2 separate regions of the Homo sapiens genome follow, and region 1 is linked to region 2. A link means that fine-mapping ties the variant in region 2 to the expression of a gene that starts in the linked region. Tissue or cell type: whole blood. Region 2 holds a variant in brackets; the other region holds the start of a gene. All regions are shown on one strand. Distances are between the middles of the regions.

Region 1 (5,374 bases), 46 kb before region 2:
TGGGATTACAGGCATGAGCCACCTTATTGTGGTTTCTTGTCTCTTTCTAACCAAATCTTCACTTTATTACTTAATTTCATATCTGTAATTTTTTCTTAAAGAGGTCTCCCTAGGGCTGGACGTGGTGGCTCACGCCTGTAATCCCAGCACTTTGGGAGGCCGAGGTGGGTGGATCGCCTGAGGTCAGGAGTTCAAGACCAGCCTGACCAACATACTGAAACCCTGTCTCTACTAAAAATACAAAAAATTAGCGGGTATGGTGGCGGGCACCTGTAATCCCAGCTACTCAGGAGGCTAAGACAGGAAAATCACTTGAACTTGGGAGGCAGAGGTTGCAGGGAGCTGAGATCGTGCCATTGCATTCCAGCCTGGGCGATAAGAGTGAAACTCTGTCTCAAAAAAAAAAAAAAAAAAAAAAAAAGAAGTCTCCCTAGGCTGAAGCTACCTGCTCAATCTTCTCTTGTGTCTTATAGGATCACAGGATCCCCCTTGCCTTACCTCACTGTTACTCCCAAACAGTTCTCACATGTTTACAAGGGAATGTAACAGAGTGGATCAGAGAATTCATTCTGGATCCAGACCGACCTTAGTTTTCTCATCTATATAATGGGAATAATAGCAGGATCTCTCGCCTTAGATAGTCATGAAGTCCAATGAGATGATGTGTATAAAGCCCTAACACAATGTAGCAGAGGGCACAGGGCCAGGATTGATATTTAGCTGGTCCTCACGGATACAGCAGACTCCCTGTTTATGACAGTGGTTGGCTCTGATTTGGTTGGTGTCCATGCCAGAGTGTACAATCATTATTAGCTATTGATATATTATTAGCTCCCTCCCCTGCCCACCCAGGGGTTTACGCAGTAAGTTCTCAATTATTGGCAATCCAAACAAAGAATAAAAGACACCAGCTGGAATGAAACAGAGAAGCTGGTTCCAAATTGAGCAATTCAGACTGACTGCTATAAAATTTCCTCACCTTAAAGGCCCTTAGAGTTAATTCATTCTAATCCCCCTAAAAATATACTTTTTTGACATGTTCAAGTATTGGAAATTTGGAAAATTCACAAAAACACAAAGAAGAAATTAACTGCTGTGATTATAGATGATTATACACATATACATATGTATTTAATACATATTTATGCTGTACATAGTGTTTTGAAGCATACTGTACTTCAAAAAAATTTGGGAGGGGTGCATTGGCTTATGCCTGTAATCCTAGAAATTCAGGAGGCCAAAGCAGGAGGATCACTTGAGGCCAGGAGTTCTAGACTGGCCTGGGGCAACATAGCGAGACCCGTAGCTTGACATGGTGATGCGGGCCTGTAGTCTTAGTTACTCTGGAGGCTGAGGTGTGAGGATTGCTTCAACCTAGGTTACAGTGAGCTATGATTGCACCACTGCACTCCACCCTGGGCAACAGAGCTAGACCCTGTCTCTAAAAAACATAAATAAACCAATGTTTAATACTTAGCATTTCCCCCTATCTTTAAATATCTTCTAGCTACTTCACTTTTATTTTTATCTTTTTGAGATGATCTCTTGCCCAGGTTGGGGTGCAGTGGCATGATCTCAGCTTACTGCATCCCCCACATCCCAGGTTCAATCTATTCTCCTGCCTCAGCCTCCTGAGTAGCTGGGATTACAGGCATGTGGCACCACGCCTGGCTAATTTTTGTATTTTTAGTAGAGACGAGGTTTCACCACGTTGGCCAGGCTGGTCTTGAACTCCTGACTTCAGGTGATCTGGTCGCCTCAGCCTCCCAAAGTGCTGGGATTACAGGTGTGAGCCACTGCTCCTGGTAGCTACTTCACTTTTAATGGCTGCATAATATTCCTCATCAGAAAGTGGGAAAAATTAGGCTAGGTGGCGTGGCTCATGCCTGTAATCCTAGTACTTTGGGAGGCTGAGTTGGTAGAATTGCTAGAGCTCAGGAGTTTAAGATCAGTCTGGGCAACATGGCAAAACCCCATCCCTACAAAAAATACAGAAAATACCGGGTGTGGTGGTGCACACCTGTAGTCCCAGCTACTTGGGAGGCTGAGGTGGGAAGATTGCTTGACCCCAGGAGATTGAGGCTGCTGTGAGCTGAGATCCTGCCACTGCACTCCAGCCTGGGCGACAGAGTGAGACTCCATCTCAAAAAAAAAAAAAAAAAAAGAAAAGAAAAAGATAAAGAAATAAATAAAGTGTTAATAATTAAAAGTACTTTTAGAGGGTTATGTCATAAGCCTTGACAAGACTTGTTCTGTAAAGCTACCCGGCATGCAAAAAGCTCAATTAAGTTAGCTCCTCCACAGGATGGAATTATATAACCAATCCCTTTCAAGAGGCATTGAAGTTGTTTCCATTATTTTGCTATGATGAATAAGGCTGAGCAATATTAATCTTTGCTCATATCTTTGGTCATTTCCTTTGTAAATTTCGGGACTGCTGGGTATGCACATTTTAAAATTAACTCACTCATCATCATGCAGTTAGGAGAACAGAGAAAGGAAGGGGCTTGCACCGGGTCACATAGGGAGTTAGCGTCAAAGTCAGGACTAGGAACCAGCCAGGGCCCTCTAACTGGAGCTCTTCCAGCTGGGGTCCTAGAGGAAGTCCCAGCTGGCCGCGGGAGGGAGGAGGAGGAAGGGAAAGAACCAGGCGCCGGGGCTGAAGCGGCGGCAGGAAGAAGGTGGGGCCGGCTGGGAGGAGCGGGCGGAGCTGCTGAGCAGCGCCTCTCCTTCGGGCGGGGGAAGCTAAGCGGTCGCCTGGCAACCCTGGCGGCGCGCCGTTCGAACGGAAGCGAGGAACCAATCAGGAAGTCCGGGGCGAACCATTCTGGTGTGAAGGGGGGCGGCGTGCTCACTTCCCCTTCCACGGCGCCCCAGGGACTTTCCCTGCGGTGGGGGCCTTCGACAGTGAGGGCCACCCGCTCAGCTCGACCGCGGAGGGCAGCTCCAAAGGGGACCCCAAAGGTGCCCACGCGGGGCTGGGGCCTCCTGGGCGTCGTTGGGAGCGGCCACTACCGGCCCGGGTCCGAGCTGTCAGCCTCTCCAAAGCCTGCGCGAGAGGAGCCGGGACACGCCTAGCGCGGGCTCCAGGTGAGGGCGCGGGTGGGTCCGGGTGCGACCCCGGGTCTGGGGGCCCCGTTCCCCGAGCGTCTGCTGTCTGCTTTCTCCCCGCGTCGTACCTGCGTGTCATTTCACAGATGAGGACTCTGAGGCTCAGAGAGGCAAGTGTCCCGGCCCGGCGAGCTCTGGCGGAGAATCCAGTTCAAGTCTTTCTGCCCCACCTCGCAGCCCCCTAGTCTAGTCACATCTGGACTTGCCTTGAGAGGCCCAGACGGGCAACTGGTAGTCATTTTCCCAGCGTTTTATCGGCAGGGACCTGTAGACCCCTGGCTGGATCACATATCCCCGCGCCCCACACTGTCCTCGGGATACCCCCTTTGGGCGTCTGTCTTTCCTTCTCCGCAGTCCGGGGTTGGACTCGGCTCATTTGGCGCCTTTCTGTCTACGGGGACAGAGGACCACTCTTTGGGGATCGGACGGGACTGACATTTCTGGGCTGGATGCAGGGGCAGCAGATTCTCCAGCCCCCAGAGCCGCTGCTGGCCTCTTGGGAATCATCCCCAGTTTGGGGAAGGGAATAGAGCCAGTCCCTAAACCAAAGCCACTAGTCACCAGAGACTTTGGAATTGGGAGTGGGGCCGGAATCCCCCCAGGTGGAGCAGCTGACCTAGGCCAGACCCTGCTGTGTCTCCTGGGGACACCCCCTGCCCCCTAGGTTGCTATTGTCAGTCTCCTTTTGTAGGTGGGGAAACGGAGGTTCTAAGAAGTTAAGCCCCTTTTCGAAGTCACAGTCAGACAATGCAGTGGTTAGCTCCTAGTCCCTCTGGCTTCAATCTTAGAATCCTTGACACACAGAATCATGCATTTTGAGAGTCTTCAATCTCTTCATAAGGGAGTTACATATCCTCTCTCCTCTGGAGCCTGCCCCTGGCTTTGGGGGACAGGATCTCCGAGGACTCAGAAAGAAAACAAGGCTTTCTTTTATTCTTTCAACAAATATTATTTATTGACTTCATAAGCCCTGCTCTGGTTCTTGCATGTTTTGGTTTTTTTACTTATTAGCAAATGTATCATCTTCTCCCACTGTGATGCAAGGCAGGGGCTGAGGCAATTGAGCCAGTGCAAAATTTAGGGATGCCCAAAACCTCAGTAATCAAGACTGAAACTAACGTTCATGGACCATTTGTGTGTTCTGCAGGCAGGAGGTTAACTCACACAGCCTTCATGAAGTGCAGTCCTCCCATCTCTCTCTCTCTCTCTCTCTCTCTCTCTCTCTCTCTATATATATATATACACACACACATATATACACACACACATATATGTATATATATGTATGTGTGTATATATGTATATATGTGTATATATATGCATATTTATAAATCATGAAACCACTGCCCTGTCCCTGAGTTGCTCTGTGACATTGAGTAAGTTTCTTCAGTCTCTGGGCTGAGCTAAGAAGTCATGATGGTGCACTCAGGCCTGGGCAGAGGGCAGTCTAGGATAGGAAGTGGGCTTGGCTGTGGATCTGCCTCCCCCTCCCCTTTCTAATCCTGCGTGCCAGGCCCTTCCCCAAGACCTTGCATGTGTTATCTTCCATTCTGTCCTCACTGCAAAATCCTTCATCCCCATTTTGCAACCTCAAGTGCAGACCTAGGCCTAGAAGATCAACTTGGTATCAGTGGGCCTAGATGTCCACATCCACACCCATTCCACAGCCTACTCCCTTCTCCCTTCCTAATGTTAGTGCAAGGCCACCCTGAGCAAGGCTGACTCCTGGGCAGGCCAGGGCACCAGCGTCTGGGAGGCCTCCAGAAATAGCTCAGGGCCTGGTGTGGCTCTGGAGGTGGCCCAGCTGGGTGTCCCTGACCTGGACAGCTGGGCTGAAATTGAGCTGGGGCTGCCCTGCTGGCTGGCCCCTTGCCACTGCCTGGAGCCTTCCCAATCTCCTCTGGGGCAGGCAAGGGCCTCCCCAAATCTAGGCCAGGCTTCTGCTGAAGGGAAAGAAAGAAGCAGGTGGGAGGAAGGGGGCGGGTTGGGTGTAGAATGTCATGAAAATTATAACCTTTGGAAACCACACCTCCCACCCCCTCACCAAAGAATAAAAATCACTAACACCTCTTGAGCATTTACTATGTTCTAAGTACTTTACAAGTATGAACTCATTTAATTCCCTCAACTCTGTGATATAAGGTAATTACTGCTGTTCTTATTTCCATCTTGCAGAGGGGAAACTGAGCACAAGAGAGGTTTAATAATTTGCATAAGATAACCTAGAGGTGGAGTTTGAACCCAGAGAGTCTGGCTCTAAATT
Region 2 (5,374 bases):
TACTCACTGGTCAGGTGTGAGGAGTAGGGGGACATCCAGGGAATTTTTCATTCAGCTCTGGACCTTGCATTATCAGGTTGGTATGGATCCCATAAGGAGGGATGTCAGAACCTGGGCAACATAGGGAAACCCTGTTTCTATAAAAAATACAAAAATCAGCTGGGCATGGTAGTGCATGCCTGTAATCCCAGCTACTTGGGAGGCTGAGGTGGGAAGGTCACTGGAGCCTGGGAGGTCTGGGAGGTCAAGGCTACAGTGAGCTGTGATCATGCCACTGCACTCCAGCCTGGGCAACAGAGTGAGACCCTGCCTCAAAAAAGCCTTTGCTTTGGTGGCCAGTGGCTTAAATGGGACTCAGCTGGAGGAAACAGTGGGGGCATATCACTGAGAAGTTCCCAGAAGTGGAATCAGGCATAAAGTTCAGGAGGACAGAGAGTCATTCAGAGATTCCTTGTGGGGAAGCGACCTTCCCACCAGTGGAGGTATTCCAGCACGGCTGGATGATGATTGCAACTATGGAGGGAATCTATGAAGAACCAGATGACACGTGAGATTTTTTGCAGCCCTGTGAGTGTGAATCCTGGTTCAGAGATAGCCAGGACCCAGGCTTATCTAAAAGATCCTTAAATTTCTCTGAGAGGCAATATCATGTTGTGGAGACATCATGAGTTTTGACAGCAGGGAGATCTGAGTTCAAATTCCAGCTCATTTAACTTGTAACTTTGGGCAGGATACTTAAACTTGGCATCTCAGTTTCCATATTACTAAAGTAGGTACAGTAATGCCTACTTCAAAGTGTTGTGGGGAAGATTAAATGGAATAATGGTGCCTGGAACACAGTAGGTGCTCAATAAATGCTAGTTCCTTTTCCCAAATATACCAAGAACCAGGCTGAGGAAGGGGTGAGAAACCTTGATGATCTTACAAGATCGTCATGTTTAAGCTCATCCTGCTATTGAAGAAGCAGAAGCTCAGAGAAGCCAGACTGACTTGTCCAAGTTCCCAAAGCAAGCTGGAGCAAGGCCACAATGAGTGCAGGAATTTCAACTTCTGGCCCAGGGACCCTTCCACCCAGCCCCAGGGCATAGGACAGGCTGGGCAAGTCACCTCCTTTTGCTTCTGGGTCTCTGTAAAAAGGCTGACTTGGGGTGACTGACCTTGGAAGACCCCTTCTTGCTCCTCGGATGGCAGCACCAATGACATTCTTTCCACTCCACCCAGTGGCTAGGACATGCTGAGTGCTAACCAGCCACCTCCAGATCCCATGACGTGCACCCAAATGGGGGACAGATGGTAGGAACAGGAGACACCCAGAGACTGACCGTTGGAGCAGACTCTGTAGACACTAGCCTGGGGACCCCAGCCCGCCCACTAGCTGAAGACCCCAGCCCCCACAACGGCCTGGGCCCCGAACCCACCTGTATAGCTGGTTCTCACTGCCCAGGTGGAAATGTTCGTACTGGGCATAGGCCTCGTGGCCTTCCCAGTCTTGCAGCTCCACACGCAGAGAGTAGGCTGCCCTTCTGGTGAGCTGGTGCACCACTTCATTGCCCAGCCAGTGCTCCCCAGCTGGGTCTCCGAAGCCCTATAGGGAGGGGAGCGTGGGGTGAGACTCATGCTGAGGAGGAGGCCATGTCCCTGGCTGAGGAGCTGGGCTGGGCCAGGCTCCAGGGCTACTTATACAAAACCACTGTGCTTAATGATCGAGTTCATAAGTACAGTGTAGGCAGGACTGGGAGTAGGAGCCCTCCACCTGCTAGAGGGAAAAGACTAAGGCTTTTGTAAGTGTAAAAGCCTGTTAAAAGTTATTGAAATCACATTCCTCTGAAGTTCAAGAACAGGAAAAAGTAATATTTGGTGACTACCTTTGGTGGAGTATTGACTGGGAGGGGGCACAAAGTGGGCTTCTGGGGTGCTGGGAGTGTTGTACATCTAGCACTGAATGGTGGTCACGTGGTTAAATACATATCTAAAGGCTCACTGAGCCTTACACTTTATTTGTGCGCTTAGACACATGTACGTTAAACCTCAACAAAAATTAAATAAAATATTTCAATCAGCTACATAAATAGTAGAGCAAACTTTGTTCAGTGACAGCGCAGCCACTGCAAGATTTCAGCAACACAGAAATGTAAAACTGAGAGTGTGGGGAATGTCATGTCCCAATGCCCTTGGACAGAACAAGAATTCAGCACCAAGGACAGGGGCACACCCAAGGCCCGCTCCCCAATTTAGTCACGATGCAATGCGGGTTAGCCTGATGGTTAATATTCAGGGTTCTTTTGTGTATTTCTGCACCTGGACACCCTATTCCTCCTTGCCATTTTAATGGTTGTTTAAAGCCCAATTAGTTCAAAACACTCATAACTTAATTTGGTATTTATTTTTAAGTATTCCTTAAATGAACAGCAAGCAGACGCAAATAATAGAACTGCTGTATCACTTTGTGGGTATCTTTTTCTATTTCTTTGGCTTTGAAAACTTTAAGAGCTTTTAAGTATTTTAAGTCAGCTTGGCAAAAAATCCTTTATTCAAAACCTAATTAAAAAATTGGAAAACAATCGGGCTTCTCATCTGATAAAATACATGTGATCTTTGGGCCTGCAATTCCTCGTTAATGAATCTCTCCTGCAGATATGATCATAGACGTATGAAAAGACAAGAAACTTCATTAAAGCAACGCAGTCAGGGTTGACTGGGGGGATTTTTATTCTGTCTCCTCCTTTGTATTCTTTAAAAAATTAGAAATGTATATGTATTTTTTTAAAAAAAATTAAAACAAAAATAAAGCTAAACTTTTTTTCTTAGAACATATGTCAGAACTTTCAGAAAGAACATTCAAATTCAGGTGATGGGGTCCCATAAAGCAGATGTGCACTGTCAGCTTTAGATGAGTTGATTTTTTCTGGG[G/C]GAGGAATGAGGGCAAAGCAGTCCCCTTCCAACAGCCCAGCCCCAGCCCCAGGTTTCAGAGCAGAATGGCCCCTCCCCAAGGCAGCAGGGCTACCTGTTTGTAATCCTTCCAGTTCCGCTGAAAATTCACGGTGCCATTCTCACGGCGCTGGATGAGGGTCCACCTGCCTCCACTGCTCTGCAGGTCACAGAACACCTGGAGGGGGTGGGCAAGGCACAGCTGGGAGCCCTTGGAGGTAGCCAGAGGCCAGGCCTGTGCTAGCCCAAATGTGGCTAAGCAGACAGACCCCCACAGAGCAACAGGTGAGCCTGGGGGTCCTGGGCATCAGAAAGATCCAGGCTTAAATTCCCCACCCATTGTCATCATTTTTCTAAAGTGGTGGGTAAGGAATGACCTCTCAGAGCCTTCCTCTCATTTGTAAAATGGAGATTCATACCTTAACCTCTTTGTGCCTCAGTCTCTCATCTACCAACTGGGGTTGTGAAAATTAAACGAGATGAGTCACGTAAAGTGTTTAGAACAGTGCCTGGCAGTACTAGGTAAACGGAAGCTCGACCTCTTTTTGTTGAAAGGAGAGGTTAGCAGGTGTGTGAGAAGTGTAAAAGACAACCTGGAGACAAACAGAGGCATTCTCCTTAGTATATTAAGAGGGGGTGAAAGGAAATAGAGCAATGGTAATACTAGCAATTTGAGGGCCGAGGAGGGAGGATCGCTTGAGCTCAGGAGTTTCAGACCAGCCTGGGAAACACAGGGAGACTTTGTCCCTACAAAATGTTTAAAAATATTAGCCAGGCCATGGTGGCATGTGTCTGTGGTCCCAGCTACTTGGGAGGCTGAGGCAGGAGGATCACTCGAGCCCAGGAGGTCAAGGCTGCAGTGAGCTGTGATCATGCCATTGCACTCCAGCCTGGGCACCAGAGCAAGACCCTGTCTCAAAAAAAAAAAGGGAATTATGAAGTAGGAATCTGCTAGTTGTTTCCCTTCTAGGCCTGGCTCTCAGACCCTCCCTCCTGACATCCGTGCTCTTCTCTGTCACCCTTCTTATCGGATGACTTGACCTTAAATTTTAGGACAACCTTGGGAGCCACTGATTGAAAATGGTGGCACCTCTATTAGCCCTGGTTTCTAATTTCCCACATGGAGCAGAACCCCAACTCCTGCCTTCAACTGGACTATATGTAAACTAGAAAGAAACGTCTTTGGGCTAAGGCCCTGGAATTTTGGGGGTTGTTTGTAATATCAGCTATCATCATCTTAACCAACACTGAACTATTTTGTGCTGTTCCAGTTAAAGCACCTCTGAAGTGATGCTGGTTAAGGATGCACTTCCAACTTTGGGAACTTCTGCTTATCCCCACAATCTGATCCCTGACTGCTGGGAAGTCAAAGCCACCCCTACACCTCTGGTATTTCAGATACTGGACAAAGCCTGATCCCGATGGGGTGCGGGGTGTCTGTTTGGGAAGCCCTTGGCTCAGCACCCTCTAACAGCCACAGTTCCCAGGGAGCCCCCTAACCTTCCTGGGCTTCGTTGCATTGGACACCTGGATGGTGTAGACACCACTGGCACTGGCCCCAGAGCGCTGGATCTCTGCACAGTCCTGGAACACCTGCTCACCTGCCATTATGAAGGCTGCAAAGGGACAACACAAAAGTCAGTTGGAGGTGGGCAAGGAAAGAGAGAAGGGGCCAAGTGGGCATGCCTGCCTGCTTTGTGCCAGGTTCTGGGTTGGGAGGTGCTGGGGACAGGGAGATGAGTCAGACCTGGGAAGATTTCGTAGAGGAGGTGACAGTAAGCTGGAACCTGTGTAATGAGCAGGAGTTGCCCAGTGGAGAAGGGGAAGGTGTTCCAGGCGGAAGAAACAGCATATGCAAAGGCCCCAAGGTAGGAAGGGCCCTAGTGTGTGCAGAGGACAGGGCATGGGGAGGGGAACTAAGGCTGAGGCCAAGGAGAGGAAATGACTCACACCGTGAGAGAGGAGTTGAGACCAGGGAGGCTGCTTGCTGTATGATGCAACTGAGAGGGTAGAACAAGGCTGGCACAGAGAAGGTGGGGAAGGAAAAGGAGAGACGAAGCTGAGATTTCAGCAGGGCCAAGTCAGCCGTGAGTGCCAGGCTGCGGAGCCCAGATTCTCTGGGCTGAGAAAGAGCACTCTGTCCAGAGTGTGGAGGGGGGCCTGGAGGGGATGAGACTCAAAGCTGGGAGGCCAGAGAGGAGGCTGCTAGAGTTTTCTGGGAGAGAGTTACTGGGGCCTGAACTCCAGTGAGGCACTTCCCATTTCACAGACCAGGAAACTGAGGCCCAAGAGTGAGGCAACTGGCCCAAGGGCACACAGCCAGGTAAGGCAGAACCTTCCTTCTTTGGAGCTCCCTTGGGTGGGAAGCTGTGGGCTCCCCTTCATAGCCCACCCTTTTGGCTGTATCTCCCTGCTGCCCTGGGCATATGCTCCCTTATTCTGTCCT

The links. PIP is the estimated chance that this variant, and not a neighbour inherited with it, causes the effect.
Region 1: FAM110A starts here. The variant in region 2 is the best candidate, but not a certain one, in a credible set for the expression of FAM110A in whole blood (INTERVAL, PIP 0.57).

Annotation. Positions count from the first base shown.
Region 1 is chr20:830,862-836,235 of GRCh38, forward strand. It overlaps FAM110A (family with sequence similarity 110 member A), which reads left to right and starts at 2,854. Exons shown (of 2, transcript NM_001042353.3): 1 at 2,854-3,090. RefSeq lists a silencer at 3,105-3,254 and an enhancer at 4,771-4,870.
Region 2 is chr20:876,743-882,116 of GRCh38, forward strand. It overlaps ANGPT4 (angiopoietin 4), which reads right to left. Exons shown (of 9, transcript NM_015985.4): 5 at 4,429-4,544; 6 at 3,005-3,106; 7 at 1,419-1,585. Among named protein-coding and RNA genes, the nearest start is that of ANGPT4, 37 kb to the right of the region's middle. RefSeq lists a silencer at 2,101-2,301. The variant G/C (reference allele first, on the strand shown) is at 2,911.